Regions from separate parts of the Homo sapiens genome. Here all the other regions are linked to region 1. Evidence: fine-mapped expression QTL. A gene starts in region 1. Each other region holds a variant in brackets. All regions are shown on one strand. Distances are between the middles of the regions. Region 1 holds the start of EPS15L1 (epidermal growth factor receptor pathway substrate 15 like 1). Region 2 overlaps EPS15L1 (epidermal growth factor receptor pathway substrate 15 like 1). Region 3 overlaps EPS15L1 (epidermal growth factor receptor pathway substrate 15 like 1). Region 4 has its middle 13 kb from the start of CPAMD8. Region 5 overlaps CALR3 (calreticulin 3). Region 6 overlaps EPS15L1 (epidermal growth factor receptor pathway substrate 15 like 1).

Evidence for each region.
Region 2: its variant is fine-mapped to the expression of EPS15L1 in monocytes after R848 (Quach 2016, PIP 0.91).
Region 3: its variant is fine-mapped to the expression of EPS15L1 in whole blood (TOPMed, PIP above 0.99).
Region 4: its variant is fine-mapped to the expression of EPS15L1 in CD4 T cells (CEDAR, PIP 0.95).
Region 5: its variant is fine-mapped to the expression of EPS15L1 in whole blood (TOPMed, PIP above 0.99).
Region 6: its variant is fine-mapped to the expression of EPS15L1 in whole blood (TOPMed, PIP above 0.99).

What each region holds. Positions count from the first base shown.
Region 1 is chr19:16,469,853-16,474,917 of GRCh38, reverse strand. EPS15L1 (epidermal growth factor receptor pathway substrate 15 like 1) reads left to right here and starts at 2,948. Exons shown (of 24, transcript NM_001258374.3): 1 at 2,948-3,005. The coding sequence starts at 2,973. RefSeq lists silencers at 2,717-3,116, 3,177-3,396 and enhancers at 3,477-3,626, 2,859-3,770.
Region 2 is chr19:16,448,830-16,453,894 of GRCh38, reverse strand. All of the region lies in intron 1 of EPS15L1 (epidermal growth factor receptor pathway substrate 15 like 1), which reads left to right. Among named protein-coding and RNA genes, the nearest start is that of EPS15L1, 21 kb to the left of the region's middle. RefSeq lists an enhancer at 1-327. The variant A/G (reference allele first, on the strand shown) is at 2,338.
Region 3 is chr19:16,433,417-16,438,481 of GRCh38, reverse strand. EPS15L1 (epidermal growth factor receptor pathway substrate 15 like 1) reads left to right here. Exons shown (of 24, transcript NM_001258374.3): 5 at 617-712; 6 at 1,483-1,545; 7 at 3,992-4,117. Among named protein-coding and RNA genes, the nearest start is that of EPS15L1, 36 kb to the left of the region's middle. The variant G/A (reference allele first, on the strand shown) is at 2,864.
Region 4 is chr19:17,037,084-17,042,148 of GRCh38, reverse strand. No RefSeq gene overlaps it. Among named protein-coding and RNA genes, the nearest start is that of CPAMD8, 13 kb to the right of the region's middle. The variant G/A (reference allele first, on the strand shown) is at 2,880.
Region 5 is chr19:16,490,724-16,495,788 of GRCh38, reverse strand. It overlaps CALR3 (calreticulin 3), which reads left to right. Exons shown (of 9, transcript NM_145046.5): 2 at 1-38. Among named protein-coding and RNA genes, the nearest start is that of CALR3, 2.9 kb to the left of the region's middle. RefSeq lists an enhancer at 1-358. The variant G/A (reference allele first, on the strand shown) is at 2,329.
Region 6 is chr19:16,354,143-16,359,207 of GRCh38, reverse strand. It overlaps EPS15L1 (epidermal growth factor receptor pathway substrate 15 like 1), which reads left to right. Exons shown (of 24, transcript NM_001258374.3): 24 at 3,357-3,961. The coding sequence ends at 3,503. Among named protein-coding and RNA genes, the nearest start is that of KLF2, 32 kb to the right of the region's middle. The variant T/C (reference allele first, on the strand shown) is at 2,260.

The DNA.
Region 1 (5,065 bases):
GGATTTTTTTTTTTTTTTTTGAGACGAAGTTTCTGTGTTGCCCAGGCTGGAGTGCAGTGGCGCGATCTCGGCTCACTGCAAGACCCGCCTCCTGAGTTCATGCCATTCTCCTGCCTCAGCCTCACAAGTAGCTGGGACTACAGGCACCCCCCACCATGCCCGGCTAAATTTTCGTATTTTTAGTAGAGATGGGGTTTCACCATGTTGGCCAGGATGGTCTCGATCTCCTGACCTCATGATCTGCCTGCCTCGGCCTTCCAAAGTGTTGGGATTTCAGGCGTGAGCCACCATGCCCGGCCTTTTTTTTTTTCTTTTTTTTCTTCTGAGACGGAGTTTTGCTCTTGTTGCCCAGGCTGGAGTGCAATGGTGCGATCTTGGCTCACTGCAACCTCCCCATCCCAGGTTCAAGCAATTCTCCTGCCTCAGCCTCCCGAGTAGCTGGGATTACAGGCACCCGCCACCACGCCTGGCTAATTCTTGTATTTTTAGTAGAGATGGGGTTTCACTGTGTTGGCCAGGCTGGTCTCGAATTCCTGACCTCGTGAACTGCCTGCCTCGGCCCTCCAAAGGGCTGGAATTACAGGTGTGGGCCACCGCGCCCAGCCAAGTTTGGATTATTTTTACAAGATGATGCTGGAGAGTTTCTATGGCCACCACCATTCTAGACTCTGATACTGGCACTTAAAGCCTGCATGCTACATTTCCTGGACGCCGTTGCCAATTGGCAACGTTCCTGTCATGCTTTATTAGAACAAAGTTGGGAGGCAGAAAGAGGGGAGAAACCATTTTTTCAGACTTCTGCCAGTGGCTTAGGTGGTGGTGACAACAACAACTGTGACTTTCGCAATCATGGTGGAGGCAACTGTGGCTAGCAAGGGTGAACACATCTGGGATCCTTCTGTAGGCACAGTGATTGTGGGTTATGGGTCCTCCTGTGCTTTATTTATTTATTTATTTTGAGACGGAGTTTCGCTCTTGTTGCCCAAACTGGAGTGCAGTGGCGTGATCTCAGCTCACTGCAACCTCCGCCTCCCAGGTTCAAGTGATTCTCCTGCCTCAGCCTCCCGAGTAGCTGGGATTACAGGTGCCCACCACCACAACCGGCTAATTTTTGTATTTTTAGTAGACACGGGATTTCATCATGTTGGCCAGGCTGGTCTCAAACTTCTGACCTCAGGTGATCCATCCACCTCGGCCTCCCAAAGTGCTGGGATTACAGGCGTGAGCCACTATGCCCAGCCACCTCCCCTGCTTTAATCTTTCAGCTCTAGAGAGGCTAGCAGCCTCATATAGTTATGAATCTTTAGGTAAACTTACCTTCCTCTTTTGTTCTTCCAGTACTTCCAACACTTTTATACTCAGTCCCCTGTAGTCGTTTATGTATTCATTTATTTTTATTTATTTATTTTTTAGACAGAGTCTCGCTCTGTCACCTAGGTTGGAGTGCAATGGTGAGTTCTCAGCTTATTGCAACCTTCCCCTCCCAGGTTCAAGCAATTCTCCTGCCTCAGCCTCCTGAGTAGCTGGGATTACAGGCACCTGCCACTGCACTGGGTTAATTTTTGTATTTTTAGTAAAGATGGGGTTTCTCCATGTTGGCCAGGCTGGTATCAATCTACCTGTCTCAACTGGATTGCTGGGATTACAAGTGTGAGCCACAGAGCCTGGCTCAATCCCCTGTATTCAATATCCTCTGTTTGAAGTACCTAGAAGGACTTCTCTTTTCCTTATGGAATACGTACTGATAAAGCACTCAAGACTGTTAAAAACCTTCATTACTCTATTGATGTAACAAAAGAAGCTGAGGCAAAGTTAATATAAGTAGAGAGTTTGGGCCAAGGTTGAGGACCGCAGTCCAGGAGACACAGATTCAAGTTGCCCTGAATGTATGCTTTGATTAGCAACAGTTACAAGTGGGTTCTTTTTGTTTTTGACTTTGTTTTGAGACAGAGTCTCACTCTGTCACCCAGGCTGGAGTGCAGTGGTGCAATCTTGGCTCACCGCAACCTCCACCTCCCGGGTTCAAGTGATTCTCTGGCCTCAGCCTCCTGAGTAGCTGGGACTACAGGCATGCACCACCACACCTGCTAATTTTTGTATTTTTTTTAGTAGAGATGGGGTTTCACCATATTGATGTTTCACCATACTGGCCAGGCTGGTCTCCAACTCCTGACCTCATGACCCTCCCACCTCGGCCTCCCAAAGTGCTGGGATTACAGGTGTAAGCCACTGTACCTGGCAACAAGTGGGTTCTTGTCTTATTTATTTATTTATTTTTGAGACAGAGTTTCGCTTCTGTTGCCCAGGCTGGATTGCAATGGTGTGATCTTGGCTCACTGAAACCTCTGCTTCCTGGGCTCAAGCAATTCTCCTGCCTCAGTCTCCTGAGTAGCTTGGATTTCAGGTGCCCGCCACCACAGCCAGGAGGACGCCTTGCGGGGCAGGGTGAGGGGGGCAGGGTGCGGGTCCCCCAAATTAGCGCGCACACACACACACACACACACACACACACACTGCGATCCTAGGAACAGGGCGCTTTGCGGGGCAGGGTGAGGGTCCCGACCCTCCGCGGGGTGGGCGACCGCCTCCCCAGGCGCACTGGCAGGGGGACGGCATCCCTAACAGAGAACCAGGCCTCGGCATGGGCTGGAGGGATGACACAGCATGGTCGACTCGGACAGCGGCCAGCGGCATGAGAGTCCGAACAACGTTGGAAGGAGGAGTAGGGGAACGGGCAAGAGAGCACGGAAGACGCAGATGCCTCAGGCCCAGCCCCTCCAGGCTGCGTGTGGGCGGCCCCGCCCCTGCCCCCGCCCCTCCCGGCCTGACTGCACATGCGTGGCCCTGTCTACGGCCCCGCCCTCTCCCGGGACAGGCGGCCTGCGCACCGCCCTCCCGTCGTCCCAGTGCGCACGCGTGGCTGCAGCCCCGCCCCCGTTCCCCCGGCGCTCGGAGCCCGAGTCCGCGGGAAGATGGCGGCGCCGCTCATCCCCCTCTCCCAGCAGGTACGGGCCGGGCGGGCCTGGGGGCGGCGCCGGGGTGCGGGGCGCGAGGCGAGCGGTGCGGCGAGGCTGAGGCGCTGGGAGACTCAGCCAGGCGGCGGCGGGGGCGGCGCGTGCTGAAGGGCTTGCGGCGGGCGGGTGGGCAGGCGGCCCTGAAGGTGACAGGCCGGGACCCGCGGCCTCCCGTGCCCGAGCGACCCTCGCGGGCACCGGCGAGGCGAGGAGGTGCGCAGCGCGTGTCCTCTCCGCCCAGGGCCCGGACCCTGCCGCCGCTGAAGCTCCCAGGCCGGGGACCCGCGGAGGCGCTGGGCTGCATCCCGGAGGGGTGGGCGAGGGGTGCGAGCGTTTCTGTCGGCGCGGCGGCCCAGCGAGTCTTTGTCTCCCTCCGGTCCCGGCGCCCGGGCGGGCAGGGTCCCGCCGGAGCCCGGACCCGTCAGCAGCAGTGCGATCTCAGACTGATCCCCTGCCTCCTTGGAAGCTGCTTCCGCCACCCCTGCACCGGGCGCAGATCGTACGTCTCCGGGCGCCTCTCTGTGTCCTCAAATTCGCCTGATGCGCTTATGAAGGGGCAGTATCGATAGCGCGACACAGACATGCGAAAAAGAGCCATGCGTAGGCAGCTCTGTTATTTGGGAGAGACTTTCATTCATTCATTTTCTATCCATCCCTCAAATGTGCGTTGGGTCAGGTGCTGGGAGCGCTGCATTCTTCCAGACAGACAAGGTCGCTGCTTTCCTGGAGGTGACACTCGTGGGAACTAGAAACTACCTGTGTTATGCTAATCACAGCTGCCTTTATTTGCTGAATACCTGTGTTGTGCAAAGCACCATATAAGCATTTTGCTAGAATGATCTAGCACAGCATGGTGATTAAGAGTGAGGACACAGGGTCAGATCATGTGTTCAAATCTTGGCTCCAGCCCCGATTTCTCTGTGCCTTTGGTTGAAGCTCTTAGCCATTCCACCCATCAGTTGCTTCCTTTGGAAAATGGAGATATAAAAATGTGTTGGGATTATGTGAAAATTAAGCACGTGAAAAAGCGCTTAGAACAGTGCCTAGCATATGAGAGGCACTCAGTGATCCTATAATTACTGTCATCATTTAATCTCTGCCAGATTTGGACGTTTGGGAGTAGAGACCGCAGCAATTAAGAATTCCAAACCCAAAGAGAGTTGATAGGCCGGTTGCATGCTTGCATGACTGGTTAGCTGATCCAAGGAGAGAGAAGTGCACAGCTAGCCAATTTGCAACACTGTCACTAAGTTAACAGTGCTAAAACCCGGTGATTATTAATTAGCAAGTTCTTGTTACTGACATGAAAGTGCTCTGTAAACTGTTAAGTGTCCTACCGATAATAGGTGTTAATAGCTAAGTGCTACAGTTTAGAGTATGTAGTCAGGGGGTGGGGGGCGGGGAAGGCGGGAGTCGGGGGAAAATCACCTAAGATCATTTCATGAGAAAGCACTAAGCACTCCCAGTTTGGGAGGCGTGGATCTTTCTAAAACTTCCTGTCCAATTTTTTTTTTTTTGAGATGGAGTATTGCTCTGTCACCCAGGGTGGAGTGCAGTGGCATGATCTCAGCTCACTGTAACCTCCGCCTCCCGAGTTCAAGTGATTCTCCTGCCTCAGCCTCCTGAGTAGCTGGGACTACAGGCACGTGCTACCACACCCGGCTAATTTTTGTATTTTTTTTTTAGTGGAGACGGGGTTTCACCATTTTGGCGAGGCTCGTGTCAAACTCCTGAACTCGAGTGATCCACCCGCCTTGGCCTCCCAAAGTGCTGGGATTACAGGCGTTAGCCACTGCGCCTGGCCAGGTCACTGACTTCTTAGCCTCTTCCTGTTCCTTTCCCTATACATTTGTTGAATGAAGGCGTGGCCTGGTTTTCTTCGTTTGGAAATGTCAGCACTTCTTTACACTTGCTCTCGAGTGAAAATCTACACCATGGGTTACTGTTGGCCCAGGTGTGAGGCATGGCCCTCCCAGGCCCTTACTGTCTAGCTCAGGAGATCACTTGGGTTCACAGATAACTCTGGGGGAACCAAGGGTATAATTCCAAAA
Region 2 (5,065 bases), 21 kb after region 1:
TTTTTTTTATAGGAATTCTTTTTTCTTTCTTGGATTTCAGCTTTTTTTATTGTAGATACAGAGAGTACATGTGCATATTTGTTACATGAGAGTATTGCATGATGCTGAGGTTTGGAATACGGATCCTGTCACCCTGGTAGTGAACATAGTACCCGATAAGTCATTTTTTTTTTCTTTTTTTTGAGATGGAGTCTCGCTCTGTCGCCCAGGCTGGAGTGCAGTGGCTCGATGTCGGCTCACTGCAAGATCCGCCTCCCGGGTTCACGCCATTCTCCTGCTTCAGCCTCCCGAGTAGCTGGGACTGCAGGCGCCTGCCACCACGCTGGGCTAATTTTTTGTATTTTTAGTGGAGACGGGGTTTCACCGTGTTAGCCAGGATGGTCTCGATCTCCTGACCTCATGATCCGCCCACCTCGGCCTCCCAAAGTGTTGGGATTACAGGCATGAGCCACTGTGCCCAGCCCAAATGGCCTTTAAACACATTAAAAGTTGATGGCTGGGCATGCTCACACCTATAATCCCAGCACCGTGGGAGGCCCCGGTGGGAAGATCTTTTGAACCCAGGAGTTAGAGACTGGCCTGGGCAACAAAGCAAGACCCCGTCTCTACAAAAAATAAAAAATAGTAATTAGCTGGGTGTGGTGGCATGCACTTATAGACCCAGCTACTTGGAAGGCTAAGGAAGGAGGATCCCTTAAGTCCAGGAGGTTGAGGCTGCAGTGAGCTATGATGGCACCACTGTACTCTAGCCTGGGTGACAGAGCAAGTCTCTGTCTCTATGAAAAATAAAATAAAGCCCGGGCGCGGTGGCTCACACCTGTAATCCCAGCACTTTGGGAGACCGAGGCGGGCAGATCATGAGGTCAGGAGATCGAGGCCATCCTGACTAACACGGTGAAACCCCGTCTCTACTAAGAAAAATACAAAAAAATTAGCTGGGCATGGTGGTGGGCACCTGTAGTCCTAGCTATTCGGGAGGCTGAGGCAGGAGAATGGCATGAACCGGGGAGGCGGAGCTTGCAGTGAGCCAAGATCGTGCCACTGCGCTCCAGCTTGGGGGACAGAGCGAGACTCCATCTCAAAAAAAATAAAAAAATAAAAAAATAAAATAGATGTAGAGGGAAGGGTTTAATGAATTCCCATGTACCCACTGCCCATTTACAACAGTTATCAATATTTTGCAGATTTCTTTGTACCACCCTTTGATCTTTTCCCCCACCTACGTATATTTTTAGTTCTTAGGTTTTTTTTTTTTTTTTTTCAGATGACATTTTGCTATGTTGTGCAGGCCGGAGTGCAGTAGCCATTCAGAGGCCCAGTGATCATAGCTCACTGCAGCCTGGAATTCCTGGCCTCAGGCAATCCTCCTGCCTTAGCTTCTCGAGTAGCTGGGACTACAGGCGAGTGCCACTACACCTGGCTCTGGCTTGTGTTTTTTTTTTTTTTTCGAGATGGAATTTCACTCCTGTTGCCCAGGCTGGAGTGCAGTAGCATAATCTCAGCTCGCTGCAAACTCTGCCTCCCGGGTTCAAGTGATTCTCCTGCCGCAGCCTCCTGAGTAGCTGGGATTCCAGGTGCCTGCCACCACGCTTGGCTAATTTTTATATTTTTAGTAGAGATGGGGTTTCACCATGTTGGCCAGGCTGGTTTAGAACTCCTGACCTCAGGTGATCTACCCACCTCAGCCTCCCAAAGTGCTGGGATGACAGGCGTGAGCCACTGCACCCAGCCTCCTGTTGTGTGGTTTTTTTTTTTTGAGACGAAGTCTCACTCTGTAGCCCAGGCTGGAGTGCAGTGGCGTGATCTTGGCTCACTGCAACCTACGCCTCCTGGGTTTAAGCATTTCTCCTGCCTCAGCCTCCAGAGTAACTGGGATTACAGGTGCACGCCACCGCACCCAGCTAATTTTTTTGTATTTTTAGTAGAGACAGGGTTTCACCATGTTGGCCAGGCTGGTCTTGAACTCCCAGCCTCAGGTAACTGCCTGCCTCGACCTCCCAAAGTGCTAGGATTACAGGTGTGAGCCACCGTGCCTGGCCTGTTTTTTTTTAATCTTAGAAATTGTAGGCCAGGCGCGGTGGCTCACGCCTGTAATCCCAGCACTCTGGCAGGCCGAGGCGGGTGGATCACGAGGTCAGGAGATCGAGACCATCCTGGCTAACATGGTGAAACCCTGTCTCTACTAAAAAATACAAAAAATTAGACGAGTGAGGTGGCGGGCACCTGTAGTCTCAGCTACTTGGGAGGCTGAGGCAGGAGAATGGCGTGAACCCGGGAGGTGGAGCTTGCAGTGAGTGGAGATCTCACCACTGCACTCCAGCCTGGGCGACAGAGCAA[A/G]ACTCCATCTCAAAAAAAATAAAAAAAATAAAATAAATAAATAAAAGAAATTGTATTTCAACATGCACCTCTAACAGTTAAGACCGTTTTCCTTTACATAACCACAATGCCTTATCACACCTTACACAACTAATAATAACGCCTTTGGTATTGGTATTATCTGATAACAAGACCATATTCACATTTCCCTGATTGTCTGCAAATGTCACCTTGCATTTGGTCATTAGGTTTCCTAAGTCTTTAAAGAAAAAACAAAACTTCTCATTTTGAGATGATGGTAGACTCACTTGCAGTTGTTGGAGAGTCTGGGCGGGCGCGGTGGCTCACGCCTGTAATCCCAGCACTTTGGGAGGCCGAGGCAGGCAGATCACCTGAGGTCAGGAGTTCAAGACCAGCCTGGCCAACGTGGTGAGACCCGGTCTCTACTAAAAGTATAAAAACTAGCCGGGCACGGTGGTGGGTGCCTGTAATCCCAGCTACTCGGGAGGCTGAGGCAGGAGAATTGCTTGAACCTGGGAGGCGGAGGTTGTAGTGAGCCAAGATTGCACCACTGCCATCCAGCCTGGGCAACAGAGCGAGACTCTTGTCTCAAAAAAAAAAGAGCCTGTACCATTTATCCAGTTTCCTCTGAAGCAACATTTGCATAATGGTGGTACAGTATTGCATCTGGGATATTGATGATGATGGCTATGTTCAGGTTCTGAAGGAAGAGTCCTGGATTCTCTGGGGACCCAAATGACCACCTTGCGAGACCAGCAGAAGTTGGACATGCCCTGGCCAGGCGTGGTGGCTCACGCCTGTAATCCCAGCACTTTGGGAGGCTGAGGCGGGTGGATCACCTGAGGTCAGGAGGGCGAGACCATCCTGGCCAACATGGTGAAACCCTGTCTCTACTAAAAAATACAAAAATTTAGCCAGGTGTGTTGGCATGCATCTGTAATCCCAGCTACTTGGGAGGCTGAGGCAGGAGAATCACTTGAACCTGGGAGGCGGAGGTTGCAGTGAGCCGAGATCGCACCATTGCACTCCAGCCTGGGCAACAAAGTGAGACTCCGTCTCAAAAAAAAAAAAAAAAAAAAAGAAGATGGACATGCCTGGGGCTCACGGCCTCCGTCCAGCCCAGACAGAACTCAGGGCCTGCAGTGGGGCATGACACAGGGGTAAGGCATGCGTTCCCTGCCCTGGAGAGGAACCGAGAAGCAATAGAACCACCCCTGAGAGTTTAGACATTCAGCAAAGCAGCAAGGTGAATGACATGGACTGGGGAGGGCATCAGAGCACGGAATCAAGGTTTGAAAGCTTTTTTTTTCTTTTTTAAGAGACAGCTCTGTTGCCCAGGCTGGAGTGCAGTAGCACGATCATAGCTCACTGCAGCCTTGAACTCCTGGGCTCAGGTAATCCTTCTGCCTCAGCCTCCTGAGTAGCTGGGACCACAGGCATGTGCCACCATGCGTGGCTATTTTTTTTTTTTTGTAGAGATAGGGTCTTGTTGATAGCCAGGTACAGAACACGTCCCTCCTGTTGCCCTTTTATAGCCACACCCACTTCCCTCCCAGCCCATCTCTTCCTTATCCCCGGCAACCACCACTCTGTTCATTTCTACAATTTTATCATTTTAATGATGTTATGTGATGGAATTATTCAGTATGTAACCTTTGAGGTTTGGCCTTTGTCATTCAGCATAATTCTCTGGAGAGTCATCCAGATTATTGCATATGTGTCAGCTGTTCATTCCTTTTCATTGCTGAGTAGTATTCCATGGTGTGCTTGGACCACAGTTTGCTGAACCACTCACTTATTGGAGGACATCCGGGGTGTTACCAGTTTGGAGCAGTGACATATAAAGCTGTGGCCAACACTGCATACAGGATGTGGTATGAACATGACTCTTCATTTCTCCCGGGTAAATGCCCAGGACAGTTGCTGGTTCATGCGGTAGTTTCATGTTGTGTTTAGTTTTTTTTTGTTGTTGTTGTTTTAAGAAACTGCCAGTCTGTTTCCAGAGTCACCGTACCTTTTAACTTTCCCATCAGCAGTGTATGAGTGGCCCAGTTTGCCTGCATCCTCACCAGCATTTGATGTTGTCACTATTTGTTATTTTAGCCACTCTGATAGCGTGCAGTGGCATCTCACTGTGGTTTTAATTTGCATTCTTCTTTTTGCTAATGATGTTAAACATATTTTCATACGTTTATTTGCCATCTGCTATATTTCCTCTTTGGTAAAATGTCTTTTTGCCTTCAGATCTTTTGCCCATGTTCTTTTCTTCTTCGTGTTTTTTTGTTTGTTTGTTTGTTTGTTTGTTTGTTTTTTAAGAAATCAGATCTTGTTATGTTGCCCAGGCTGGTCTTGAACTCCTGGGATCAAGCAATCCTCCTGCTTTGGCTTCCTGAGTAGCTGGGACTACAGGTGTGCACCACGACGCCTGGCTAGTTTTTTAATTTCATGTAGAGATGGGGTCTCACTATGTTGCCCAGGCTGGTCTGGAACTCCTGGGCTCAAGCAGTCCTCCTGCTTTGGCCTCCCAAAGTGCTGGGACTACAGGTACGCACCACCATGCCTGGCTTGCCCATGTTCTAATTTGATTGTTTTCTTTTTTATGCTGTTGAATTTGAGAGCTCTCTAGTATATATTTTAGATAGTAGTCATTTGTTGGATATGTGCTTTGCAAACCTTTCTTTCTAGTCTGTAGCTTGCCTTTTCACCTTTTTATCTGGCTTTTTTTTTT
Region 3 (5,065 bases), 36 kb after region 1:
TTATACAACCTAACATTTCCTAAATGTTGGGAGCTCATAGTTTTTGGAAAATATATGCATCTGAAATTTTACAGATTTCCAGATGCAGTGGAATAAGTCCATTTTATTTTATTTTATTTATTTATTTTGAGACGGAGTTTTGCTCTTTTTGCCCAGCCTGGAGTGAAGTGGCATGATCTTGGCTCACTGCAGCCTCCACCCTCTGGGTTCAAGTGATTCTCCTGCCTCAGCCTCCCAAGTAGCTGGGATTTCAGGCACCTGCCACCACGCCTGGCTGATTTTTATGTTTTTAGTAGAAATGAGGTTTCGCCATGTTGGCCAGGCTGGTCTCGAACTCCTGACCTCAGGTGATCCACCTGCCTCGGTCTCCCAAAGTGCTAGGATTACAGACATGAGCCACCACACCTGGCCAGGATAAGTCCATTTTAGTGTATTCATTTAAGCGATGTCCCCAAGGTGAGTCCAGTTCAGCCCAACGCTCCAAGGGGTTTTTGCACGGACGGCCTTCATTGTTGAAGTGCACATCCTCTTTCCCTGAAGCCTGCTGTTAGAGACAGCTCCCCCTACCCTCACTGGCGATATGCTGTTTACTCCTTCCCTTTCTTTGGACTTGCAGGGTTTCTATGTTGCACTGAGACTGGTGGCCTGTGCACAGAGTGGCCATGAAGTTACCTTGAGCAATCTGAATTTGAGCATGCCACCGCCTAAATTTGTGAGTGTCCAAGTCCTTCAAGTTCACATTCTTCTAATACCAGATGTGTGTGTGTGTGTATGTGCATGTGTGTATGTGCATGTATATTTCCATGTTTTCTCTAGCCTTCCCCTTTTATTGTGGTGAAATTCACATAATAGAAAATTAATAATTTTAAAGTGAACTATTTAGTGGTATTTAGTGCATTTACAGTGTTGTGTCTTCATTACCTCTGTCTAGCTCCAGAACTTTTTCATCCCTCCGCAAGGAGACCCCATCCACATTAAGTAATCACTCCTTGTCTCCCCCTCCCAGTCGCTGGCAACCACTAATTTTATTTCTGTCAATGGATTTGCCTGTTCTGGACATTTCCTATCAATGGAATTCTCTAACATGGTCTTTTGTGTCTGGCCTCTCTCTCAGCATCGTGTTTTCAGGGTTCATCCATGTTGTAGAATGGATCAGTGTTTCCATATTCCATTTACTGGATGGACCACATCTTTATCCATTCATCTCTCTGGACATGTGGGTTATTTCCACCCTTTTGACTGTTGTGAATAGTGCTGCTACCAGCATTCATGTACAAGGATTTGTTTGGACATCCGTTTTTAATTCATTTGGGTCAATACGTAGGAGTGGAATTGCTGGGTCATGTGGTGATTCTGTGTTTAACTTTGTGAAGTCTTCCCTTTTTTGAAAGCACTTTGAAACGTGTATCCTTTTCAGCAAACCCACCCACCTATGATTTAATTCTGTGCCAGCCACAAAGGAATGTTTCTCTCTCTTCTCAGCACGACACCAGCAGCCCTCTGATGGTCACACCGCCCTCTGCAGAGGCCCACTGGGCTGTGAGGGTAAGTGAACGGGAATAGCTCCCTCCTTGGCTCTCCTTCAGATAGAATTGTTCCAGCAGTTGTTCTAGAATTGTTCTGGAATTGTTCTAGTTTGATGTTGTTCAGAACATTTTATAGGATGATTGTGTCAGCTCTTCTGTCTCAGTGTGAGTGGCCACAGCACTTGGATGAAACGCCTCTTCTAATGAACACCTTTTACAAAGGCTGTGGCCCTTCACTGGAATTGGGAGTTGCCTACCTGGACAACTAAGTGTCAGGAGTTGGATTATTAAAGGGCTGCAGTTTAAATCTTGCATCTTTAGGTCACATTCTGTGGTTTTTGCTGCTTGTGTTGGTTATTCAGAATAGAAGAGGAAACGGTGAGAGCTTGCAAGCACGTGGACCCCCAAATGTGTCCCTTGCTTTCTCGCTTCTTTCCAGCCACTTTGCATGTTACCATTCTTTCCTCCCTGATGTTCTGATTGCTTTGTGAAAAGCCTCTCTCAGCACTTGAAGTGTTATTTTTAAAACAGAGGATGTTGTGGCTGGAAAGATAAGCTACTGCGTCCAGAAAGAAGAAAAAAAACGAGGGCTGTCTTCTAAGTACAGAATTCCTTCTAAAGGAAGTGAGCATGGTCCCTCCAAGTAACATCAGGCCTCCTCACCTTCCCTTCACTTTCAGACTGTCACATTTCCTCACGTTTATGTGGCTTAAATCCTGACATGAATAACACTCTTGCTCTCAAATAAAGGTCCCAAGCACTTTCGTCCCATGTTTACACGGTTGGTTTGCTCCCTTCTTGGAGAGGTCATGGGCTGGGTGGGGGTATCTGTGCAGGGAGAGGACATGAAGATATGTCATGTGACTGAGGAGTCATGCAGTCACCTCTGTCATCAAGCACTTTGCCAGTGGCAATCACTGTGGTGAAGGGTTTCTCCCTGTCACCCAGCGCATTGTGTGGACTTTGAAAAAGAGCTACTTTGTCATGGGAAACAGTGCCAAGAGATCTTATACTTTAAAATGTGATGGCTCTTTTCCACCAGGGGTTATGTCCAGGCCTCACTGGAAGAGCTGGGACTGAGGGGCCTGGGGACCTCGCAGAGAGGAGTCAGGGAGCACAGGACCAGATGCTGTAATTGGGGTGTACTGTGGTCGAGAGAGATTCTGCATTCCATTCACAGCCACAGTCAGAAAGAACAAGCCCGAAGTGCCAAGTGTTTGTTTCCGTTGTGAACATTTCTGGGCTTCTGAAGGCACTGAGTCAGCAAGTCCGATGGCCAGGAGAGGATCCCAGGCCCCCGAGAAAGACCTGCAGCGCTCAGCTTCTTAGCACCAACA[G/A]CTGTGAAAGCATGCGGTGTCTGCCGGTGATCTCATCTCTGTGACTGAGGGCTCTGTCTTGGTTTTTGTCTTTTAAAAATTAAAAAATTTTTATTGTGGTTGAAAGACACATCATGTAACATTTACCATCTTAACCATTTCTAAGTGTACAGTTCAGGAATGTTAAGTTTCCTTTGGAGGGTGGAACAGACTGGAAGCCACTGCCTCACTCATGGCCCCTTTTACGGGCTGCCTGCCCTATGTCTTTCAGAACAGCAGGAACTGTGACTCCCCATCCTAATGCTGTACCTTCCCTCTGTTCATGAAGAGCTATTCCTATTTACGTATTAATTTATTTACCATTAGAAATGGAGGGCTTCCTGTATGTGGCTGGGCTTGGTGGCTCACACCTGTAATCCCAGCACTTTGGGAGGCCGAGGCAGGCGGATCACTTGAGGCCAGGAGTTCAAGACCAACCCGGCCATCATGTTGAAACACCATCTCTACAAAAAATACAAAAATTAGCCGGGCCTGGTGGCGCATGCCTGTGATCCCAGCTACTCGGGAGGTACGAGTGCTGAGGCACGAGAATTGCTTGAACCTGGGAGTCGGAAGTTGCAGTGAGCTGAGATTGTGCCACTACACTCCAGCCTGGGCAACAGAGCAAGATTTTTGTCTCAAAAAAAGAAAAAAAAAAAAAAAAAGAGGACTTCCTGTACTTTAAGTTGATTTTGATAATTATTTGCTCAAGCACTAACATCTGCTCACACTTTTGTCTTTCTGGTACAAGTGGGCTCCTTGGAGGCAGGTGAGACTGATCTTTGTCTCCCTGCAAAGACACTGCCCCACCATGGGAGACTCCTGCCACACTCAGGCAGCAGCTAGGACGAAGGACAAGACCCGGGGCCAGGGCCTCCCTCCTGAGGACCTTGGCTCCCAGATCCGAGGTTGCCATAACGTTATTTCCTTCAGGGTATATGTTCACTTTGGAAACCAAGGGGCCAAGACTGTTCTAAGATCATTTTGTGCTTTTAGCCAAGGGTGATGATGGGTCCGTGGCCATTTTCACTTGGCTTTCGGTCAGAGCTCGGTCTGGACATTCACACAGGTGTGCTCTCCTACTTACTCGGGCTATTTCTTTCCAACTAGGTGGAAGAAAAGGCCAAATTTGATGGGATTTTTGAAAGCCTCTTGCCCATCAATGGTTTGCTCTCTGGAGACAAAGTCAAGCCAGTCCTCATGAACTCAAAGCTGCCTCTTGATGTCCTGGGCAGGGTAAGTGGGCCACGGGCTTGGTTCTTCTGCACTCAGTGTCCCTGCTGTGTGTGGGCGCCACTGTTCTCTTTCCCCATGGTGCTTACAAGGCTCTTGCTCTGTTTTCTCCCTGTGCCATCAGGGGCTTTCATCAGCGCTCCTGTGGGTCCAGCCCCAGCTGGCTCAGGGCTTCCTAGGGTGTGGCTTACAGTGTTCACCCAGTCCCTGGGGAAGGTGCCAGAATCCTTCCACTTCACAGATGAGGAGGTGGACTCAGAAGTGAAATTGCTGCCTGGGGCTTTGGGACCAGTAGAGCTCAGTCTTAAGCTCCCCAACTTGGGCTTTCCCCCTTTCCATTGTGCTGAATGTGGGAATGTGTGTCTGTGTCTATTTATTTATTTATTTATTTATTTATTTATTTATGAGATGGAGTCTTGCTCTGTTGCCTAGGCTGGAGTGCAGTGGCACGATCTCGGCTCACTGCAACCTCTGCCTCCCCGGTTCAAGCAATTCTCATGCCTCAACCTCCCAAGTAGCTGGGATTACAGGTGCATGCCACCACGCCCAGCTAATTTTTGTATTTATAGTAGAGATGGTGTTTTACCATGTTGGCCAGGCTGGTCCCAAACTCCTATCTCAGATTCACCCGCCTCGGCCTCCCAAAGTGCTGGGATTACAGGCGTGAGCCACCACACCCGGGCTTTTTTATTTCTTTTTTTGAGTTTTTAGAGATGGGGTCTCACTGTGTTGCCCAGGCTGGTCTCGAACTGCCAGGCTGAAGCCATCCTCCCACCTCAGCCTCTGGAGTAACTGGGACTGCAAGAGCACCACCACTCCTGGCTCTTTTCTACTATTAATTACTCTTTTTCTTCTGATAAAGCTCAAGGTAAAAGTATTTTCAACTCTGCTGCAAATTTAGGAAAAATTTTATGCATTCTCTTTAAAGAAAGTCTTAGCCTGGTGCGGTGG
Region 4 (5,065 bases), 570 kb before region 1:
TGGTGATTTCAGAAAACAAAAGGGTCGGCAGGTCACGTCCATCAGCTCCCTGAAGAGTCCTCCAGGATCACGCCTGCTGCGTGGCTTGGCACAGCCTGCATCACGACAACACGGACTTTCCATCTTTACTGTCCTTTTGATCACTTCTGCAGGGGGATAGCTCAACTTACAAACCACGTAAATATTTTCCTTTCGGCACCAAACTTTCCCCTGGGGAGCTGGAAGCCCAGCTGGGGTCTTTTTGTCTCTGGCCTCCGGGTCCAGGGCTGACCTGGGATAGGAGCATTTGTACCAGCCTCCCGGAGTTGCAGTGAGAGGTACCGGCAGGTTTCAGGGACAGGAGGCTGTTAGGACTGCCACCCACCACATCTGGTGTGAGGGACCACAGGATGGAAGAAGGCAGATATGCGGAGTTCTGAGGCAGGTTATGTGGGCCCTTGGAGTTGCTGAACCAAAGTACACCTGCAATCATAAAGCCAATTAAGATGTTTGTTAAAGAGGCTGGGCATGGGGCCGGGCACGGTGGTTCACGCCTATAATCCCAGCACTTTAGGAGGCCGAGGTGGGTGGATCACGAGGTCAGGAGATGGAGACCATCCTGGCTAACACGGTGAAACCCCATCTCTACTTAAAAAATACAACAAAAATTAGCCGGGTGTGGTGGCGGGCGGCTGTAGTCCCAGCTACTCAGGAGGGTGAGGCAGGAGAATGGCGTGAACCCGGGAGGCGGAGCTTGCAGTGAGCCGAGATTGCGCCACTGACTCTGCCTCAAAAAAAAAAAAAAAAAAGAGGCTGGGCATGGTGGCTCACACCTGTAATCCCAGCACTTTGGGAGGCCGAGGCAGGTGGATCACTTGAGGCCAGGAGTTCAAGACCAGCCTGGCCAACATGGTGAAACTCTGTCTCCAGTAAAATACAAAAATTAACCGGTGTGGTGGTGCATGCCTGTGATCCCATCTACTCAGGAGGCTGAGGCATGAGAATCGCTTGGACCTGGGAGGCAGAGGTTGTAGTGAGTCAAGATTGCACCACTGCACTTCAGCCTGGGAAAGAGAGGGAGATTCCGTCTCAAAGAAAGAAAAGAAAAGAAAAGAAAGAAAAAGAGAGCTGTGTCCAATGCTTCTTGTAAATCAAATAAAACAAGCACACAAATAGAACATTCAATTAAGGAAATTGTCTATCATTGGTAACATTGATGAAATCAGTTTCAGGGGAGTGATGGGGAGGGAGAGAAACAGCTTGATTGGAAAGAAATGAAGGGGGAACGGGAGGAGATAAATTGGAGAACTTAAGACCAATACCAGAAAAATAAAGCAGACCCATACAAAAACCAAATAAGGCTGGGTGCAGTGGCTCATGCCTGTAATCCTGGTACTTGGGGAGGCTCAGGAGGGAGGATCGCTTGAGCCCTGGAGTTTGAGGCCAGCCTGGGCAACATAGCTAGACCCTGCTTTACAAAAAATATAAAAATTAGCTGGGTGGGCCAGGTGCGGTGGCTCACGCCTGTAATCCCAGCACTTTGGGAGGCCGAGATGTGCAGATCACAAGGGCAGGAGATCAAGACCATCCTGGCTAACACGGTGAAACCCAGTCTCTACTAAAAATACAAAAACAAAATTAGCCAGGCGTGGTGGTGGGCACCTGTAGTCCCAGCTACTTGGGAGGCAGAGGCAGGAGAATGGTGTGAACTTGGGAGGCGGAGCTTGCAGTGAGCTAAGATTGTGCCACTGCACTCCAGCCTGGGCGACAGAGCAAGACTCCGTCTCAAAAAAAAAAAAAAAAAAAAAAAAAAAGCTGAGTGTGGTGGTGCTCACCTGTATGTAGTCCCAGCTACTTGGGAGGCTGAGGCAGGAGGATCGCTTGAGCCCAGGAGATGAAGCCTGCAGTGAGCTATGATCATTCCACTGCACTCCAGCCTGGGCGACAGTGAGATCCTGTCTGAAAAACAAAACAAAACAAAACCCCCAAAATCACAATGCTGAGTGAAAGAAGCTAGTCACGAAACACCACATAGTGTGAGATTCCATTGATATGAAATGCCCACAACAGGCAAATCCATAGAGACAGGAAGCAATGAGTGGCTGCCAGGGGCTTTGGGAGAGGGAATGGGGAGTGACTGCTAATGGGGACGGGGTCTCCTTTTGGGGGATGAAATGTTCTAGAATGAAATAGAAGTGATGACAGTTGCACAACTGTAAGTATACTAAAATCTATTGATTAAATAGATCTTAATCAATAGTAAATCTATTGAACCAGACACTTTCACTGGGTCAACTTTGTGGTATGTAAATTATACCCCAATTATACTCCCAAAAAAAGATGGCTGGAGGAGGGGCAGTGTGGGTGCCCTCCAGAGCCAAAGCTTATTGGAGCCCTGGCAGGTGAGGGGCTGCTGGCTGGGAAGCGGGAATGAGCCAGCCGGGCTCACAGGGCAATGAGAGTCCAAGTCCCAGGGTAGGGCAGGGATGGCAGAGGCTGTGGGCTGGATGGGGGCCTGGGGAGCTGAATGGCGAGGGTGCCTCAGAAGGTTTGCATGAACAAGTGATGAAACAAACGTCTCCTCCTGCAACATCCCCCCGACCCCCACCCTGCCCCACCACCATGATCCAGCAGGAGCCAACTCCTCCCTCCCACTCCTGGGCTGCCTGGTCCCAGTGTCCCTAGGCTGCCGTTTATGGAACATTGACTAGGTCCAGGCTCAGGGCTGGCCTTACATTCCTGGGTTCCCATCCTCACCGGTGCCCTGTGGGGTGAGCCCTGCTGTCAGAGTTTCTAGAATGCACCTGTTTGGAACTGATCTGCCAAAATATTGGGAGCCACTGAGAGCTGGGCCAGTCTCCAGCACCTGGTATGCTGGCCTGGGTGGGGGCGGTGTCTGT[G/A]GACATTTGGTGATGGGAGGAAGGAAGGGAAGGAAGTGGTCACCTCACCTGGGGGCTATGTCCCTGTCTACCTCACCTGGGGGATTTCTATGCCTGTCCACCTCACTTGGGGGATTTCTACAACTGTCCTCCTCACCTGGGGGATTTCTACACATGTCTGCCTCACCTGTAGGATTTCTACACCTGTCAGCCTCAGCTGGGGGATTTCTACACCTGTCCACCTCAGCTTTGGGCTTTCTACGTCTGTCCATCTTACCTGGGGGATTTCTACATCTGTCCATCTCACCTGGGGGATTTCTACATCTGTCCATCTCACCTGGGGGATTTCTACATCTGTCCATCTCACCTGGGGGATTTCTACACCTGTCTGCCTCACCTGGGGGCTTTCTAGGCCTGCCCACCTCACCTGTGGGCTTTCTACGTCTGTCCACCTCACCTGTGGGCTTTCTACACCTGTCCACCTCACCTGGGAGATTTCCACGCCTGTCCAACTCACCTGGGGGATTTCTACGCCTGTCCGCCTCACCTGGGGGATTTCTACACATGTCCACCTCACCTGGGGGTTTTCTATGCCTGTCCACTTCACTTGGGGGCTATTTATGCCTGTCCCCCTCACCTGGGGGCTGTCTACCACCTATGTCGTCTAGGAGGCCATGCACCTACCCGTCTTATCTGGAGGACCATGCCCCTGTCTACCAGGGGCTGTCTACACCTGTTCACTTCATCTTGGGGGTTGTCTACTTCATTTGGGGGTTACCTATACCTGCCTACCTCACCTCGGCAGGCCATGTACCCACTCAGCTCACCTGGGGGGCCATGTGCCTGCTTGCCTCACTCAGGGGCTGTCTACACCTGGGTTGGACAGGCCATTGGCCGGAGTGGCCGTCTCCAGGCTTAGCTCCAATAGACAGAGGCCTCCTGCGGGGCTGGACGAGGCCACCCCCAGGGAGTTAGAGGGTGGCGAGCCCCCTCCGCAGCCCCTAGCATGTGCTTGGAACTGCTGGCAGCCTGGTGGCTCCTCAGCTTCTGCCCGGTCCAGGTTGTGTCCGGAACATTTCTGGTACTGAGCTGGCGTCTTCTCCAGGACAGATGCTGCTGGCGGAGCCGAGGCGGGCCAGGGTGTTCACTGTGGTGCTTTTATTTCCAGCCTGCTTGCCCAGAAGGCAGAGCTTGCCAGGGTGCCTACTGGGGCTGAATCGTGTCTGGGCCTCAGTTTTGTTTTCTTTTCTTTTCTTTTCTTTTCTTTTCTTTTCTTATTCTTTTCGTTTCTTTTCCTTTCTCTCTCTCTCCCACCCTGCCCCTCCATTCTTTCTTTCTTTCTTTCTTTTTCTTTTTCTTTTTTTTTTTTTTTTGACCGAGTCTCGCTCTGTCGCCCAGGCTGGAGTGCAGTGGCACAGTCTCGGCTCACTGCAACCTCCACCTCTTGGGTTCAAGTGATTCTCATGCCTCAGCCTCCTGAGCAGCTGGGATTACAGGCACCCACAATCACGCCCAGCTAATGTTTGTATTTTTAGTAGAGACAGGGTTTCACCATGTTGGCCAGGCTGGTCTTGAATTCCCGACCTCAAGTGATCCTCCCTCCTCGGCCTCTCAAAGTGCTGGGATTACAGGTGTGAGCCACCGCACCTGGCCAGGGCCTCGGTTTTCTTATTCCAGTGCTGTCCCAGGCCCCATTCCTGCTCTCATGTCACAGGAGCCTCTAAGAAGGAATGGTTGGGCAGAGATGCCACCTAAGAGACAGGAGATGGTGCCGGTCACCAGACCCCGGGCCCTGGGAGTGTCTGATGCAGAGCTGCACTGAGGGCTCAGGTGCAGGTAAAAAGGGCTGCAGGCAGCATCTCCACCCTTCTTCCCGGACAGACGCACACACCCCTGCCCTGCTCCCTGACACTCCTGCCCCACTCCCTGCCCTCCGCCTGTGCTCACCCTGTAGGGACACAGTGAGGTGAGCGAGTGTAGTTAGCTCCCAGGTGAGGTGGGTGGGGACATGGCCCCCAGGTGGGTGTGGGTAAATCCTAGGTGAGGTGGATGGGTGCATAGTCCTCAGGTGGGATGGGGAGGTGTACATAGCCCCCAGGCAACAGGGACTGGTGTAGACAGCCTCCAAATGAGGTGGGTAGAGACATGGCCCTCCAGGTGAGGTGGGTGGGTGCATGGACCTAGGTGAGGTGGGTGGGTGTAGTCCC
Region 5 (5,065 bases), 21 kb before region 1:
GTCGGGCAAGTTTTATGGTCATAAAGAGAAAGATAAAGGTTAGTGTAGAATCAGGACCAAATTGAGCCTAATGTTACATTTCCATAGCAACCTCTCTAGGTAGTTGTGGCACAGCCAAAACGCTTTTATTCCCGTTTTACAGATGAAGACATTAAGGCAAAGGTAGAACTTAAGGGGCTCCTTTCCTTGTTTTTTTGTTTCTTCTCTCCTTTTTTTTTTTTTTTTTTTTTGAGACGGAGCCTTGCTCTGTTGCCCAGGCTGGAGTGCAGTGGCGCGATTTCGGCTCACTGCAACTTCCACCTCCCGGGTTCAAGCAATTCTCCTGCCTCAGCCTCCCGAGTAGCTGAGACTACAGGCGCGCGCCACCATGACCGGCTAATTTTTGTACTTTTAGTAGAGACAGGGTCCACGTTGGCCAGGCTGGTCTCGAACTCCTGACCTCATGATCCACCCACCTTGGCCTCCCAAAGTGCTGGGATTACAGGCATGAGCCACAACATCCAGCCTCCTCTCTCCTTTCTTTATTGCCAAAGATTCCTTTTTTTTTTTTTTTTTTTTTTTGGTAGTAGGAGTCTCGCTCTGTCGCCTAGGCTAGAGTGCAGTGGCACGATCTTGGCTCACTCAAACCTCCGTCTCCCGGGTTCAAGTGATTCTCTTGCTTCAGGCTTCTGAGGAGCTGCGATTACAAGCGTGCGCCACCATGCCCTGCTAATTTTTTTAGAGACAGAGTTTCACCACATTGCCCAGGCTGGACTCAAACTCCTGGCCTTAAGTAATCCACCTGCCTCGGCCTCCTAAAGTGCTGGGATTATAGGCGTGAGCCATGGTGCTTGGCCTATTATCATTATTATTACTTTTATTGGTATTAGGTCCCCTGAAGTCCAAGGAGACATATTCAGCTTATTTGGTATAATAAAATCATACTTGAAGCACTGTCAAATATGCAATGGTATTTAACCTTCTTTGGATTATATTTATATGAATGTGTTATTAGTAGGCATTACCAAAATTGCCCCTCTTAATAGACACTAGTCAAGTGCATTTGAGGATCAAGGGCCATGCCCCTCAGAAGGAAAAGGTTAGTGGGTACTTTTTCTCATTTTAATTTTCGTATTAAAAAGAAAAATAGGCCAGGCGCGGTGGCTCATGCCTGTAATCCCAGCACTTTGGGAGGCCTTAGGCGAGCGGATCATGAGGTCAGGAGTTCAAAACCAGTCTGGCCAATACGGTGACACCCTGTCTCTACTAAAAATACAAAAATTAGCTGGGTGTGGTGGCTCATGCCTGTAGTCCCAGCTACTCGGGAGGCTGAGGCAGAAGAATCACTTGAACCCGGGAGGCAGAGGTTGCAGTGAGCAGAGATCATGCCCCTGCACTCCAGCCTCAGTGACAGAGTGAGACTCCATCTCAAAAAAAAAGAAAAATATGGTCAGGCACGGTGGCTCACGCCTGTAATCCCAGCATGTTGGGAGGCCAAGGCAGGCGGATTACTTGAAGTCAGGAGTTTGAGACCAGCCTGGTCACCATGGTGAAACCCTGTCTCCACAAAAATACAAAAAAGTTAGCCAAGTGTGGTGGCGCACAACTATAATCCCAGCTAATTGGGAGGCTGAGGCAGAAGAATCGTTTGTACCCAGGAGGCAGAGGTTGCAGTGAACTGAGATTGTACCACTGCACTCCAGCCTGGGTGACAGAATGAGACTCCATTTCAAAAAATAAAAGAAAAAAATACAGAGATAAACATTACATCTTGTCGCCTGCACATTCTTCAGGGTACAACACAATGAGCTTTTACTTTTGTACAGGCAGGTCAAGATAAGGCAAGCGAATCACTTGAGGTTGAGACCAGCCCGGCCAACATGGCGAAACTCCGTCTCTATTAAAAATACAAAAATTAGCTGGGCATGGTGGCACACATCTATAATCTCACCTACTTCAGAGGCTGAGGCAGGAGAATCACTTGAACCCAGGAGGCGGAGGTTGCAGGGAGCCAAGATCATGCCACTGCACTCCAGCCTGGATAACCGAGCAAGACTCTGTCTCAAGAAAAAAAATATATATATATACAAATATTAGCCGAGCATGGTGGCATAGGCCTGTAGTCCCAGCTACTTGAGAGATTGAGGCAGGAGAATCACATGAACCCGAGAGGCGGAGGTTGCAGTGAGTCGAGATCGTGCCACTACACTCCAGCCTGGGCAACAGAGCAAGACTCTGTCTCAAAAAAAAAAAAAAAAAAAAAAAAATTCTAGCTTCAAGAGAGCTAATTCAAGCTCAAAGTTTAAGGACAACTGTGTGGAAAACACAGATCCCAAAGAATAGAAGTCA[G/A]TGTTCTGAAGTGTAGAAGTTTGGGATCATTTGTATAGACAAAGTTTAGAGAAGCTTAACAGAATTTCAGCATCTTTCTAGGCAAGGCTTGATAGATAATGACCATGATCCCATTAGTCAAGGTGGTCTTTTTCTTTTGAGAAGGTATATTTAACATTTCACCCTGAAGATGTAACAGTCACGGCATCTTTTGTGCCATCTGGTCTGAGTTAGGTACAGGTCAGTCCTGGAGGCAGTTAATCTGTAACTAAGGTCAGTGGTCACAAATAGAGGAGGCCTGGTCTCTGGTTTGTCCTAGTCATTTGCCAAACAAGAACAATGAGGAAGAAGGTTTATCTATGATTTAAGAAGCAGAGGTTACACCTGCATGCTGCATGACTCAGATCACACAACTTGCTCAAGGTTTTTATTTATTTTATGTATTTATTTGAGAGAGAGTTTCACCCTTGTTACCCAGGCTGGAGTGCAATGGCGTGATCTCTGCTCACCACAACCTCCGCCTCCCAGGTTCAAATGATTCTCCTGCTTCCAGCCTCCCAAGTAGCTAAGATTACAGGCATGTGCCACCACACCTGGCTAATTTTTTTTTTTTTTTTTTTGAGACGGAGTCTCGCTCTGTAGCCCAGGATGGAGTGCAGTGGCGCGATCTCGGCTCACTGCAAGCTCTGCCTCCTGGGTTCACGCCATTCTTCTGCCGAGTAGCCGGAACTACAGGCGCCTGCCACCACGCCCGGCTAATTTTTTGTATTTTTTTTTTTTTAGTAGAGACAGGGTTTCACGTGTTAGCCAGGATGATCTCGATCTCCTGACCTCGTGATCCTCCCGCCTCGGCCTCCCAAAGTGCTGGGATTACAGGCATGAGCCACCGCGCCCGGCCTAATTTTGTATTTTTAGTAGAGACAGGGTTTCTCCATGTTGGTCAGGCTGGTCTCCAACTCCCAACCTCAGGTGATCCGCCCGCCTCGGCCTCCCAAAGTGTTGGAATTACAGGCGTGAGCCACTGCGTCTGGCTTATTTATTTTTTTAAACGGAGTTTCGCCCTGCCACCCAGGCTGGGGTGCAATGGCTCCTCCATCTCCCAGGTTCAAACAGTTCAGCTGCCTGAGCTTCCCGAGTAGCTGGGACCACAGGCACGCGCCACTACGCTCGGCTAATTTTGTATTTTTAGTAGAAATGGAGTTTCCCCACGTTGGCCAGGCTGGTCTCGAACTTCTGACTTCAAGTGATCCACCCGGCTCAGCCTCCCAAAGTGTTGAGATTACAGATGTGAGCCACCATGCCTGGCCTCTCAAGGCTTTAAATTGTATTTGCTTTCACATATGTGAAAGTTTAGGCCAGGCACAGTGGTTCACACCTGTAATCTTAGCACTCTGGGAGGCCAAGGTGAGTGGATCACTTGAGGCCAGGAGTTCAAGACCAGCCTGGGCAACGTGGTGAAACCCCATCTCTACTAAAAATATGAAAATTAGCCAGGCATGGTGTCGCACGCCTGTAGTCGCAGCTACTCAGGAGGCTGAGGCAGGAGAATCGCTTGAACCTGGGAGGCGGAGGTTGCAGTGAGCAGAGATTCAGTCTGGGCAATAGAGCGAGCCTCTGTCTCAAAAGAAAAAAGAAAAGAAAGAAAGAAAGTTTAGTGTCCATTAAGTTTCACTGGAACACAGCCACATCCATTCTTTTTTTTTTGGAGACGGAGTCTCACTCTGTCACCCAGGCTGGAGTGCAGCGGTGCAATCTCGGCTCACTGCAACCTCCGCCTCCTGGGTTTAAGCGATTCTTCTGCCTCACTCTCCTGAGTAGCTGGGACTACAGGCACATGCCACCACACCCCGCTAATTTTTGTATTTTTAGTAGAGATAGGGTTTCACCATGTTGGCCAGGCTGGTCTCAAACTCCTGACCCCGTGATCCGCCTGCCTCAGCCTCCCAAAGTGCTGGGATTACAGGCGTGAGCCAGCATGCCTGGCAGTCCATTCATTTATATATTGTCTATGGCTGCCTTTTATGCTGAAAAGGCAGAGTAGAATGTTTAGGAAAGGGACCAGTCGGGCACGGTGGCTCACGCCTGTAATCCCAGCACTTTGGGAGGCCGAGGCAGGCGGATCATGAGGTCAGGGGATCGAGAACATCCTGGCTAACATGGTGAAACCCTGTCTCTACTAAAAATACAAAAAATTAGCTGGGTGTTGTGGCCAGCGCCTGTAGTCCCAGCTACTCGGGAGGCTGAGGCAGGAGAATGGCGTGAACCCAGGAGGTGGAGCTTGCAGTGGGCAGAGATCGTGCCACTGCACTCCAGCCTGGGCGACAGAGCGAGACTCCATCTCAAAAAATAATTAATTAACTAATTAAGAACAGTGGTATATTAAGAACAAAAACTTCCAGGTGTGTGAAATAAAAGTTGTATGGGCCAGGCACGCTGGCTCACACCTGTAATTCCAGCACTTTGGGAGGCTGAGACGGGCAGTCACCTGAGGTCAGGAGTTCAAGACCAGCCTGACCAACATGGAGAAACCCTATCTCTACTAGAAATACAAAAATTAGCCTGGCGTGGTGGCTAATTGTAGTTGTAATCCCAACTACTCAGGAGGCTGAGGCAGGAGAATCACTTGAACCCGGGAGGTGGAGGTTGCAGTGAGCCGAGATCACGCCATTGCACTCCAGCCTGGGCGACAGAGTGAGACTCCATGTCAAAAAAAAAAAATTATATAGAAGCAGAGTGCCTGCTAGTGGTCTACCCATTA
Region 6 (5,065 bases), 120 kb after region 1:
CAGATTGGCAGCGTGACTCTTTCAGCGTGGACGTTCTGAGACTGCTGTTCAGGGCATGTTTTTACCTGTGCAGGAGCAGCCCAGTCCATGCTGGCAGTCAGGGGGGCCCAGGTCACCCGCACCTCACTTGTGGAGGTGGTGCCCCGGCGGTGCCTCTCCAGAACCCTCTAATTTACAAACCCCAAATTTCCATCAATGGGTTATTTGCGTGTGTGGCTGTTCCCGGGAAACCTCTTCCCTCTCTGGTATTTCTTTAAAAGCAGGCCTTTCTGTCTCAGGCAAATGTGTGTATTAGGAAGTGGCATTTCTAGGTTAGCGGAACGGTTCTTTTGGAAGTTCGCATTAAGAGTAGTGCAAATACCAGATCAGCTAGGCCGTGCTTCGAATTATTGAAGGAGTTGGATACAATTTCATTGTCGGTAAATGAATGAATGGGAAGTGGCTAGGCATGTCCTGCACATGGTGGGGTGGAAGTGCCATCAGACACCTTGGAGCGCCAGTGAGGACAGGTGCCGGGCGCCTCCCGGGGCCATCCCATCGCCCAGCGTGCCGAGCTGTCTAAACTGCGGATTTCCAAGAGGCTGCTGAAATGAACCACTTATTTGCTTCTGAAAATGAACCCCATCCTGAGTGGGCAGGCCTCGGCTAGGGTGGTGTCATGCCCCTACGGTGTCTCGGTTCCATGGTAATGCCAGAGGGAAGCAGAAATCAGAGCCAGTGTGTTTCCCAGCCACTATTGGTTTTGCATCGGCCACAGACATCCAGATTCTGGCCCGTGTGACCCACCCAGATACGAGAACTAGAAGGTGGCCCCGTCCAGGGCTAAGACAGCAGACACAGAGGGAGCTGCGGAGTCCCCTTTCAGGAGAGCTCTCCCAGGCCTCACAGCCCAGCGTGCCTCCTAAGTGCATACAGACCTCACCAATGCAAGTCTCCACAGTGGATTCGTGAGCTGGCCTTGAACCGGTCGACTCTGAAGGCACCAGGAACTTTCCTGCTGACACCTTTCATTTGGAAACACAGACCCGTCAAGGGAAGGCGCTTCAGTGACACTGTGACACGGGGGCTCAGTGGGGCCAAAGGCGGCCAGAGGGCTGTGGTTCAGACCCAGCAGGCCGGTTACTTGGTCGTTCCAGGCTTTGATTTGGATCCAGGCGAACATTACTGTCAGCTCCCACCCACCCTGTCCTCAAGGCTGGTGGAGGGTGAGGTCCCCGTCAGCTGCACTGTCTCCCTCCCACTGTTGTCAGCAGCACCATGGAATAATTTCCACCTGCACTTGTTGGTTTTTCCTTGTTTTTCTCCCCATGAGGTGTTGGAAAATTCCCCAAACTGGGGCGGGGGGGATGCTTATCTGTGCCCCTGGCAGTGACACAATGGCGGGGAGGGAGTCCGACCTGGAGACTCATCAGACCCCCAAGTGTTTAGCTGGGCAGTGCCTCTTTAAGAAGTCAAGACTCAGCCCTTCCTCCCAGGGACATCTTTTCTTGATACTGACACTCCGCCTGTCCCCCATCTGGGTCCTGAGGCCAGCTAGAGGGAGGCCTCCAGGGCCCCGCATCCCCCTCACTGCCACATCTGCCTCCCAACCAGGTTCCTTGCATTTATCTGCTCCTGCACCTTGCCCAGTCCCCCCAGCCCTGCCATCTGGCCCTCCTCTCTCCTGCTTCCCGCTCATGCCACCATCAAGCCGTGAAATATCCAGACGCTGCCAATCTGATCACCCAACTCGCTCGCCCAAGGAGCCTCCACGGGGAAATCCCAGCTCCTTCCTGGGGCCCACGAGCCCCTCCTCAGTCTGGCTTATCCCACCCCACGCTTCATCCTGGCTACCCCAAGGTCGGGCACTGAGCCTCACACCCAGAACCTCGCAGGGACGCATCCTCCCTGTCAGTTTCACCTAGTATCCTGCTCCCCACAGGCCTGGGGGGGAAAAAGTCTAGAGTGTGAGCCACCCCTTCCCTGGCCTCAGTGTCCCCAGCTGTCAGAGGGATGAGATGACAGCGGGCCCACCCCCAGGTTGTCACGCAGACCTAGTGCTGCGTGTGGTGGAGAGGCCGTGAGTGTTCCTGTGTGCTTCTTTCCCCCACCTTCCTGGGTTAGTCTGCAGGGCCCTCCTCGAGAGCCTGGGTCCTTGGGTCCTGGATCGTTCTGGGATTGTTTGTATATTTCTGCTCCCAAGGGTGCCTGGGGAAGAGCCACTGCGCATGTTATCTTTGGTGTTACTCCAGTGTTGAGCAGAGAGCTGGTCAGAGGCAG[T/C]GCATCGCAGAGAGACATTAATAAGGGAATCCTTTGAATCCCTAAGCAGCAGCAGCTTTCCTGAGGGGGCCGATGATGCCAGTGACCTCTCAGGGAAGTCTGGGACATTGGGACCCACCCTGGGGGAGGAGCTTGTGGGATGTGGCTTTTCTTTTCATGACTAAAGTACTTTGAGTTGTTTGAAATCACCTATCTCAGCATCAAGATGGTTTTCTCCCTTTTTTAAGTTTTTATTTTAACTGAACATTTTAGAAAAACACCCCACGGATAAAAACTTGACTAAATGGCAGTGTAAGTGCCACACCTTTTGTCAGTGTTCTGGGAGAAATTGACCCTCAGAGCCGGGTGCGGTGGCTCACGCCTGTAATCCCAGCACTTTGGGAGGCTGAGGCGGGTGGATCACAAGGTCAGGAGTTCAAGACCAGCCTGACCAACATGGTGAAACCCCGTCTCTACGAAACATACAAAAATTAGCTGGGCATGGTAGCGCATGCCTGTAATCCCAGCTACTCAGGGGGCTGAGGCAAGAGAATCCCTTGAACCTGGGAGGTGAATGTTGCAATGAGCCGAGATCGCGCCATTGCACTCCAGCCTGGCGACAGAGCGAGACTCCATCTCAAAAAAAAAAAAAGAAAAAGAAAAAGAAAATGACCCTCAGAGGGTCTCAGAGCTCTCTGGAGCATGGCTGGAGGTAGAAATACCACATTCCCAGAGTGCAGAATTGTCTGCGCCGTGGGGCTTTAGAGCCATGCACGCTGGAAGTTCCCCATCTTTGCACCTCTTGGCCACCAGCGTCAAGGGCCCATCCTCACTTCTCTGCGTGGGGCGGGGTGGCTGGTTTCTTTGAGGCCCAGAGGTCATGGTTAAGGTCACACTCAATCACATGCATCCCGTCCACTCTGCTTTCCAGATGGGGGGCCTGAGACAGGCTCGCACGCCCACTGGGCCCAGCCAAGACATGCTTATCCCCTGCACATCGGACCCTCCGCTGGGCGGTGGGCAGGACCCTGACCCCTCCCACGCATTCCCTGCCTCCCTCCAGCTTGCAGGTCCCAGCCCCAGGGCCACATCACCCACTCTCCGTTTTTCCTTTGCAGTTTGGCAATGAGGAGCAGCAGCTGGCGTGGGCCAAGCGGGAGAGCGAGAAGGCGGAACAGGAGAGGCTGGCGCGGCTGCGGCGGCAGGAGCAGGAGGACCTGGAACTGGCCATCGCGCTCAGCAAGGCTGACATGCCTGCCGCCTAGGCGAGGGCCGTGTGTAGGCGGGACAGGGCACGGGCGGGTTCCAGAGAGGGGGCAGTGCAGATGTCTATATATACACACACACACCGTCGCCACCGTACTCCAAGGACCGGGACTCGGGGGCTTGTTCAGGGTGAGCAGACTCGGCTGCAAGACCTGGAAAGGTCACATCTCCTGGGGAAGCCCTTACAGAGGCCTTGGCCACCACTTCTGCAGGTCCGTCTCTCCACTGTGCCATCCCCCCCGGGGCTGACTGCCTCCCGCTCTTCCTCTGGGGACGAACACACAGCGGTCAGTCGAGGAGAGGAAGCACCCAGGGCTTCCCCGCCTCCTCCCTACTCATAGCTGCAGACATCCCCACCCGCCCTCCCACGCATCAGTCAGACACTCCCCCAGTGGTGTATGCACTCGTTGTATAAAATGAAGTTTGAATGATTAATATAAAATATTTTAATACAAAACAAGAGAAGCTTCTTTAATCTCTGTAAACATTGTTTTCCCTGCATGGGTATCAGGAAGCAGATCAACCAGGTGGAACATTGCTCTTTAAATCTTAAGTTTTTACTTTTAAAAAAAATTTTTTTTTAAGAGATGAGATCTTGCCATGTTGCCCAGGCTGGTCTCAAACTCCTTGACTCACACAATTCTCCTGTCTCAGCATCCCAAAGTGCTGGGATTACAGGCGTGAGCCACCAAGCCCTGCCCATTTTTATGTTTTAACCAACTTTATTTTTTAGGACAGTTTTAAACCTGCAGAAAAATCACAAAGATACAAAGAGTTCCCATAAGCCCCTTAGACAATTTATCCTTAAAAAAAATTTTTTTTTGAAACAGGGTCTGAGCTCTGTCACCCAGGGTGGAGTGCAGTGGTGTGATCTCAGCTCACTGCAACCTCCACTTCCCCGGGCTCAAGTGATCCTCCCACTTCAGCCTCCCAAAGGGCTGGGATTACAGACATGTGCCACTGTGCCTGGCCAGTTTTAAATTTGCAGAAAGATCGCAAAGAAAATACGAAGGGTTCCCATAAGCCCCTTAGAGAGTTTACCTTATTTTTAACATCTTACATTACACATTACTTACATCCCAATTAATGAACCAATACGGATTCATTATTATTAACTAGAGTCCTTACTTTATTCAGAATTGCTCTGTTTTTTTGGCTGAGTGCGGTGGCTCATGCCTGTAATTCCAGCACTTTGGGAGGCCGAGGTGGGGGGGATCACTTGAGGTCAGGAGTTGGGGACCAGCCTGGCCAACATAGTGAAACCCTGTCTCTACTAAAAAAAAACAACACAAAAATTAGCCGCGCGTGGTGGTGCGCACTTGTAATCCCAGCTACTCGAGAGGCTGAGGCAGGAGAATCACTTGAAACTCAGGAGGTGGAGTTGCAGTGAGCCAATATCATGCCATTGCACTCTGGCCCAGGCGACAAGAAAGACACCGTCTAAAAAAAAAAATGCAGGTAGGGCACGGTGGCTCACACCTGTAATCCCAGCCATTTGGGAGGCCGAGGCAGGTGGATCATTTGAGGTCAGGAGTTCAAGACCAGCCTGGCCAACATGGTG